Linked DNA regions of Homo sapiens. The gene in region 1 interacts genetically with each later gene. Each region holds a gene or a part of one and is shown in the gene's direction. Other genes may lie near its edges. The genes, in order: PRPF18 and CACTIN.

Region 1 (3,514 bases):
AACACACAGAAAAAAAGACCTTCATAGAAACAGAATTATAGAGAACAGAAAAAAATTTCATTGAGAATGATAATTAATATCCTTAGAGGCCAAGCGTGGTGGCTCATGCCTGTAATCCCACCACTTTAGGAGGCTGAGGTGGGAGGGGTGCTTGAGACCGGGAGTTCTAGACCAGCCTGGGCAAAATAGATCCCTTCTCTACAAAAAATAAAAAATTTAGCTGGACGTGGTGGTGCATGCCTATTCAGGAGGCTGAGGTAGGAGGATTGCTTGAGCCCAGGAGTTTGAGGCTGCAGTGAGCTAGGATCGTGCCACTGCACTCCAGCCTGGGTGACAGACGGGTCTGAAAACAAAACAAACAAAAAAATTCTTAGGTAACGTTGTAGCCATGAAATAAGAACATTAGGCTATAAAAAAGTTTGAGAATCAAAATGAACTCTTAAAAATTAGCAAAAATTTAAATCAGCAAAAATTTAGTAATTACATTAGTGGGTTAGAAGATAAAGTTGAAATATGAAAAGCAGGAAAGGTAAGAAAATAAGAGTCAATCTATAACGTTTATAGCCATTACAACAGAAAAGGGAAGATAGGAAATAAAGAATTAATGTAAGAAAACGTCCCAGACCTGAAGGACGTGAGTTTGTAGAATGAAAAGAATTCACTTAATACAGCGCAAATGAATAGGAAGAGTTCACATCAAGGCACAAAAGAATGCATGTTGGAAGGCCAAAGCTAAAGAGAAGATTTCAAAGACTTCAGAGAAAAGGTCGCTTACAAAGGTGCAGGAATTAAAATACTGTCATACTTCTCACTGATAGCACTAGAAGGTAGAAGACAGTAGAGCAGTACCTTTGCAATAGCTAGGGAAATATTGTCCAACTCAGAATTCTCTTCCTTTCTGAACCATCAAGTGAAGGGTAAATATAGGCTAATGACATCTCCCATGCACACATTCTCTGTAGTCATTATCGTCATAGCTGACACTTAAGTAGTGCTTACTGTGCTTCCCTTCAGTACTTTACAGCCACAATATGAGATGGACACTCACATTTCCCTGTTTTGTAAGTGGGGAAGAGGCGTAGAGAAGTGAGTTCTCAAGGTCACATGGCTAGTCAGTGGTAGAATTGGGATTGGAATGTGGGCAGTCTTGACTCTACCTGAGGATGTCCTCCATCCAAAGAAAAAGATCCAAGAGCTGAGATCCACCACAGAGCAAGGCGAGAGGAATCCCCAGGCTGGAGCTGCAGGGATGTCATGCTCCAGGATGGTAGCAGTACAAGTGGGTCCAGGTTAGAGTAGATGGTTGAAGGACTCCAGGAAGAAATGGAAGAGCTTATATTCCCTGGCATGTCTGATCAGATCCTGAGTGATGTTTGGGCATGTGAGGGTAGTCTCATGTTGGAGAATGGATTAGAAAAACAAAACAAAAAGGGGAAAAAAACTTATGAGAGGTCATCATCATAATATGTTATGTGGGTTTGCTTTGAACGATATTTGTGTAGCCTTTATAAGGAAAACCCTGAATATTGATTTCACTAAAAATGTGGTTTGGGGAGGATGTGGGAGAAAGTGCTTTTGAGGCGTGTGCGTGCATATGTGGGGCCAGTGGACAGTGGTGTAAGAGTGAGATATCCTCTGCTTCATAGTAGGAAGTCAGGAGATATCACTAATATCTGGTGGAAAAACCAAGCACTGTCAGTATAGTATTTAGAAATGTGGCAATAAATGCCAGAGGAAACACTTAAAACGTTTGAAAAGGGTTGCCTGTGGAGAGCTGGAATTAGGATTTGGAAAGAGTGAGGTAGAGGACTGCTATTATTTGATACAAGAATCGTGTGATTTTTTTTTTTTCCCCTCAAACAGTGTACACAGAAAACCCGGAATTATCCTTGGCTTTTTTCTTCCTGTCACAACCCATATCCTATCCATGTCAAAGCTTGATGGTTCTATATTCAAAGTATGTCTGGAGCCCGATCCCTTCTCACCACCTTCCTTGCTGCCACTGGGTCCAGCCACCACCTCTCATCTGAATTATTCCAGTGTCTTCTCTCTGGTCCCTGAGTTTCTCTTATTGCTCCTCTCCAGTTTCTTAGCAGCATTCCCCAGACTGATCCAGTTCACATACAGTCAGATCGTGTTGCTCTGTTGTTCAGAACCCTGCAGGGGCTTCCTAGTTCACAGAGTCCAAGCCAAAGTCCTTCAGGTTGCCCCACACGTCCACTTACCCCACTTGCCTGCTTTATTTTCTCCAAAGCACTTAGCATCGTTGAAAATTTTTTTTTATGAATTTATTTTGTTTCTTGCCTGTCTTCCCTTACCACAATTCGATCTCAGGAGGGTGGGATTTTTTCTGGCTTCTTCGCTACTGTATTTCCAGAGCCTAGAACAGTATGTATAGTAGGCACTGAATAAACATTTGTTAGATAAGGGTATTGCCTTTATATAAATAAAAAGCCAATTAAAAATACCACAAGTTTTTAAGCCATTTGCCATAAGCTAAGCTAAGCAGCTCATTGTTTTACTGGCTTAAGCATCCATAAGCAGTTTGAAACTGAAATCCTGAGGGGTCTAATTGAAAAGATTTGTTTCCATCTGGAAAATAACGATATTCTGTCCTGAGATTACACACCTATCTCTGCCATGCACTCTCAAATCTTTTTTACAAAAATGTATCATACCGCTCTGTGGTAACTACTTATGACTAAAACAATTGAGTTTCACAACCCTTGGCAGCTAAGATTTCAGGGAGAACACTAGTATATGTTTTTAAATCATAGAATCTGCTTAGTGAGTATAAATAGGCATCACACACGTCTTCTGTAAGGAGCACACACCTAAGATTCCAATTCTTCTGACATGGGGAAAACCACCTCCAAGGCAAACCATCAGTTTGCCTTCCGCTTGCGCATAACAATTCTTGCCATGCTCTGCTGCTGAGTGAAGCTATTTGTATTTCATCAGGGTGTTCTCTTGCCTGACTTTGCCCCTCTTCTCACCTATTCCTTCAGGAACCTTAAGATGCCAAATTAGTGCTATCATCTATATTTCCATGGCTACCGATCAAAGTTCTGCATACACATGATTAGAATTCACAGCAGGATAAGCTGGACTATGTGATGGAATGGTCTTTATCCCAAAGCAAATACCTGATTACACAGGGAACAACAACAACAAAAAGGAGCCAAGTGAATGACGTGTGCAAAAGCCCTTCTTGTGAATCAGTTGAAAGATAACCTCCCTCCACACCCCTAATTCCTAAATCTCATAATGTGGGCAATCCTTGAATCCACCAAGGACTTTAAATACTTCACAGTCTTGTTTCTCTGATGTGGAATCTGTTAGATTATGGCTCCATTCATAGAAGTATGTCATTTGTCCCTTAATATCCTCAGGGATTGGTTCCAGGACCCTGCAGATACCAAAATCTGGATGCTCAAGTCCCTGATAGAAAATGACATAGTATTTGCATATAATCTATGCACATCCTCCTGTATACTTTAAATCATCTCTAGAT
Region 2 (3,640 bases), on another chromosome or scaffold:
GGCAAAGGTCCCAGCCAGAGCCGTGGCTGCTCGCCACCTTCTCAGGGTCCTTGCAGCAATAAGGGGCGTGAGAATCTCGGTGGGGGTGGGGCGCGGAGCCCCTTCGCCTCCATGCGGGTGACCCCGGCTCTGCGTCCCAGGCTGCGTGAGCGCCACCAGGACGTGCTGCGGCAGAAGCTGTACAAACTGAAGCAGGAGCAGGGCGTGGAGAGCGAGCCGCTGTTCCCCATCCTCAAGCAGGAGCCCCAGTCCCCCAGCCGCAGGTAGGCCCGGCCGGCACCCCGGGGACGCCGATGCAGACGCGGAGCAGGATGGAGGGGCCGTGGGCAGCCTCCGCGCCTCCAACGCTCTCTCCTCCCAGCCTGGAGCCTGAGGACGCGGCGCCCACCCCGCCCGGGCCCTCCTCGGAGGGCGGCCCCGCGGAGGCCGAGGTGGACGGCGCGACCCCGACAGAGGGCGACGGCGACGGGGACGGTGAGGGCGAGGGCGAGGGCGAGGCGGTGCTCATGGAGGAGGACCTGATCCAGCAGAGCCTGGACGACTACGACGCCGGCAGGTACAGCCCGCGGCTGCTCACGGCGCACGAGCTGCCACTGGACGCGCACGTGCTGGAACCGGATGAGGACCTGCAGCGCCTGCAGCTCTCGCGCCAGCAGCTCCAGGTCACGGGTAAGGGCGGGGCTGGAGGCCAGGGGGTGGGGCCAGTGGGGCGAGCTGGGGGCGGGGCTTCTCCAGCCTCATTTCCCGGCCGAAGCCGCTGGCGTCAGTGGGGAGCTGCTTGCTGCTTCTCCCCCGGGTCTCTGAGCGTGCATTCCGTCACCTGCACGCGCACTGGGGCGTTCCTTCATTCATCCTGGGCTTGCTGGCCCACTGGCCTTGGGGCCACAGGTGGTGGAAGCTTTTACCGGCCGCTGTCCGAGCACTCCCTGGGCAGCCTCCGTCCTAAGACAGAGGAGAAAATACTGGCTTCAGAAAACCCCTGGGCCAGGACCCCCTCGGGGGTCATGCGTGGGGCTGGATCCCGCAGCCAGGCCCTAACCACCAGGTTCTCCTGTCGCTCGGCGGGGAAGCGCGCTGCGCTTGGTCCCCACCCAGGAGGACGATAGACATGAAGACCAAGGTCCGGGGCTCGGGGCGGATGGTGTGGGTCTCCGGGTCGCCCAGGCCCTGTCCCCTCCCCATGTGCCTTAGCTCGCCCCAGCCTGTTTTCCTTTTGCGGGAGGCACCAGCGGCCGCCCCTGCCAGAGAGGCTAGGAGGGAGGCCAGGACCCAGGGGGAGGCCGAGGCCCGGGTGAACGCCGTCCCGCCCGCAGGAGACGCCAGCGAGAGCGCCGAGGACATCTTCTTCCGGCGGGCCAAGGAGGGCATGGGCCAGGACGAGGCGCAGTTCAGCGTGGAGATGCCACTCACCGGCAAGGCCTACCTGTGGGCCGACAAGTACCGGCCACGCAAGCCGCGCTTCTTCAACCGCGTGCACACGGGCTTCGAGTGGAACAAGTACAACCAGACGCACTACGACTTTGACAACCCACCGCCCAAGATCGTGCAGGGATACAAGTTCAACATCTTCTACCCCGACCTCATCGACAAGCGCTCCACGCCCGAGTACTTCCTGGAGGCCTGCGCCGACAACAAGGATTTCGCCATCCTGCGCTTCCACGCGGGGCCGCCCTACGAGGACATCGCTTTCAAGATCGTCAACCGCGAGTGGGAATACTCGCACCGCCACGGCTTCCGCTGCCAGTTTGCCAACGGCATCTTCCAGCTGTGGTTTCACTTCAAGCGCTACCGCTATCGGCGGTGACGGCCCTGGGGAACGGCAGGCAGGTGTCCTCGGGGGCACAGTAAAGGGGCTTCGGTGAAGCTGGTGGTCACTCCGGGGCCGCTGTCTGGGCTGCAGGGCCGCGGGTTCACGTCCCACCTCAGGCCGCATCTTTCTTTCGCCAGGCCTCAGTTTCCTCCTATATAAAAGGGGGGTCACCATTGAGCCTGCCATGGTGAGCTGAGGAGACACTGGGACAGGCTGGCCTAGGGTCCTGATGCAACGGAGGGGGCGCTAGGGGCATCTTTCGAGCACGAGGGTGGCCAGCAGCCGCCAGCTGACCTCACCGTCCAGGCGGACACTCTCCACCGCCCCTCAGCCAGGCTGGGTGGGGCCCACAGGGCCTGCCCCAAGTGGCGGCCACACAGGGTGTTGTGGAGATGGGCCAGAGGGGCCTGGGCTTGGCGGTGCCAGGCTCGTGAGAAGCAGGAAACTCAAGGCCAGCCCTGCCACATCACGGGGCACCCACTGGGCGTGAGGCAGAGCCCGCGGCTGTGGGGCAGCTCCAGCCCTGCCCACAGGCCACCCTCGCCCGCACAGGCAGCACTGAGGCCGGGACCCTGCTGGCGCCCGATCCGCCACTGCAGAAGAGACCCTCTGTGGACACCCACACTCTGCAGGGACTGGCCCCCAACTCACCCCGTGCTGGCTGGTGGGGTCCATTTCCCCGCAGCGGGTATGGAGGATGCGTCGAGGTCCCTGTCTCTGTCAAGGTCGTGGGAACCAAAAGTCACTGAGCCGTCCTCCCCCCACCTCTGAGCACAGGGCCTGGAGGGCAGGGGCTCCCCGAAGGCTGGGGGTTGGAGAAGGGTGAGGGGCTTCCCCCAGGGATCCCCCCACCTGGCCTGCTCACGGGGCCTTGGAGCATGAGACCAGTGACCCCGAGTTTTGCCCATATCAGGACAGTGGCTCCTTCTCACTCCCCTTTCTCAGGCCAGGAGGGCCGAGGGCCACACGGGTGCCACAGCCCAGGTCGGAGTGGCCCAGCCGGCAGGCTTGTTCTTCAGCATCCGACGGGAACATCTCCAACAGAAGCAAAACGGAAAGTGCCTCCCGGACCCCCAGAGGGCCACCCAACCTCACCAGTCACCAGCCCCAGACCACCCACAGCCCCTCCCAGACACCCCGCCTCATCTGGAAATAGTTCCGTTTGTTTCTCTAAAAAGACTTGTAGGTGGGAAAAAAAATCTTTTGTTCTCATGGAATTGGCCTATTGGCAAGATCGCATGTTTTTTTAATAAACGTTGTATTTTAGAATAATCTTAGGTTTGCAGAAATGCAGAGAGTGTAACGTGTCCGACGCCCCACACCCGCTGCCCTAGTTGCTGCTGGCATTTGTGACACAGCGCATTTGTCCCAAGGGAAGAGCCTGGGAAACAACACGGCACCCAACTGGGGCCCGGTGGTCCCTTGGGAGCTGTGTTAGTGCCCGGATCTGTCTTTGCCCCCCACCCCTCTGCCTTGCCTCCCACAGTGGGGGTGACAGTCCATTTCCCAGACGACAGGAGGGAGGGTACAAGGGTGGACACAGCTGCTGGCCTGGGCCCAGGCTCTCATGGGGGCAGCGCTTGGCCATGCCTGGGGGCATTCGTGGTGGTCCCACCTTGGGGCTGCTCCTGGCGTGGAGTGAGTGGAGGCCAGGGATGCTGCCCAATGTGCTTCAGTGCCCAGGATGAGCCTCCCCAAATGTCCTCACTGCAGTAGGCAGAGGTGCAAGGCAGATCCTGCACTCCCCTGGGGCACTGGTCACCTCCCAGCCCCCACCTCTAACAGGATCCCGGAAGTCTGTGGCACAGGGCTTGGGAACTGGCCAGGGAA

The links.
Region 2: changes in PRPF18 (region 1) and CACTIN together harm fitness more than expected from each alone (negative genetic interaction), as found in Homo sapiens cells (one large-scale study listed by BioGRID).

The regions. Positions count from the first base shown.
Region 1 is NC_000010.11:13,624,965-13,628,478, forward strand, and holds part of PRPF18 (pre-mRNA-splicing factor 18), read left to right. Parts: intron 1-3,514.
Region 2 is NC_000019.10:3,610,087-3,613,726, reverse strand, and holds the end of CACTIN (splicing factor Cactin), read left to right. Parts: exon of another isoform or gene 1-140; coding exon 141-263; exon of another isoform or gene 264-361; coding exon 362-669; exon of another isoform or gene 670-942; intron 943-1,313; coding exon 1,314-1,804; 3' UTR 1,805-3,082; downstream 3,083-3,640. UniProt on the Homo sapiens protein: Plays a role in pre-mRNA splicing by facilitating excision of a subset of introns. Required for the splicing of CDCA5/Sororin, a regulator of sister chromatid cohesion. Involved in the regulation of innate immune response.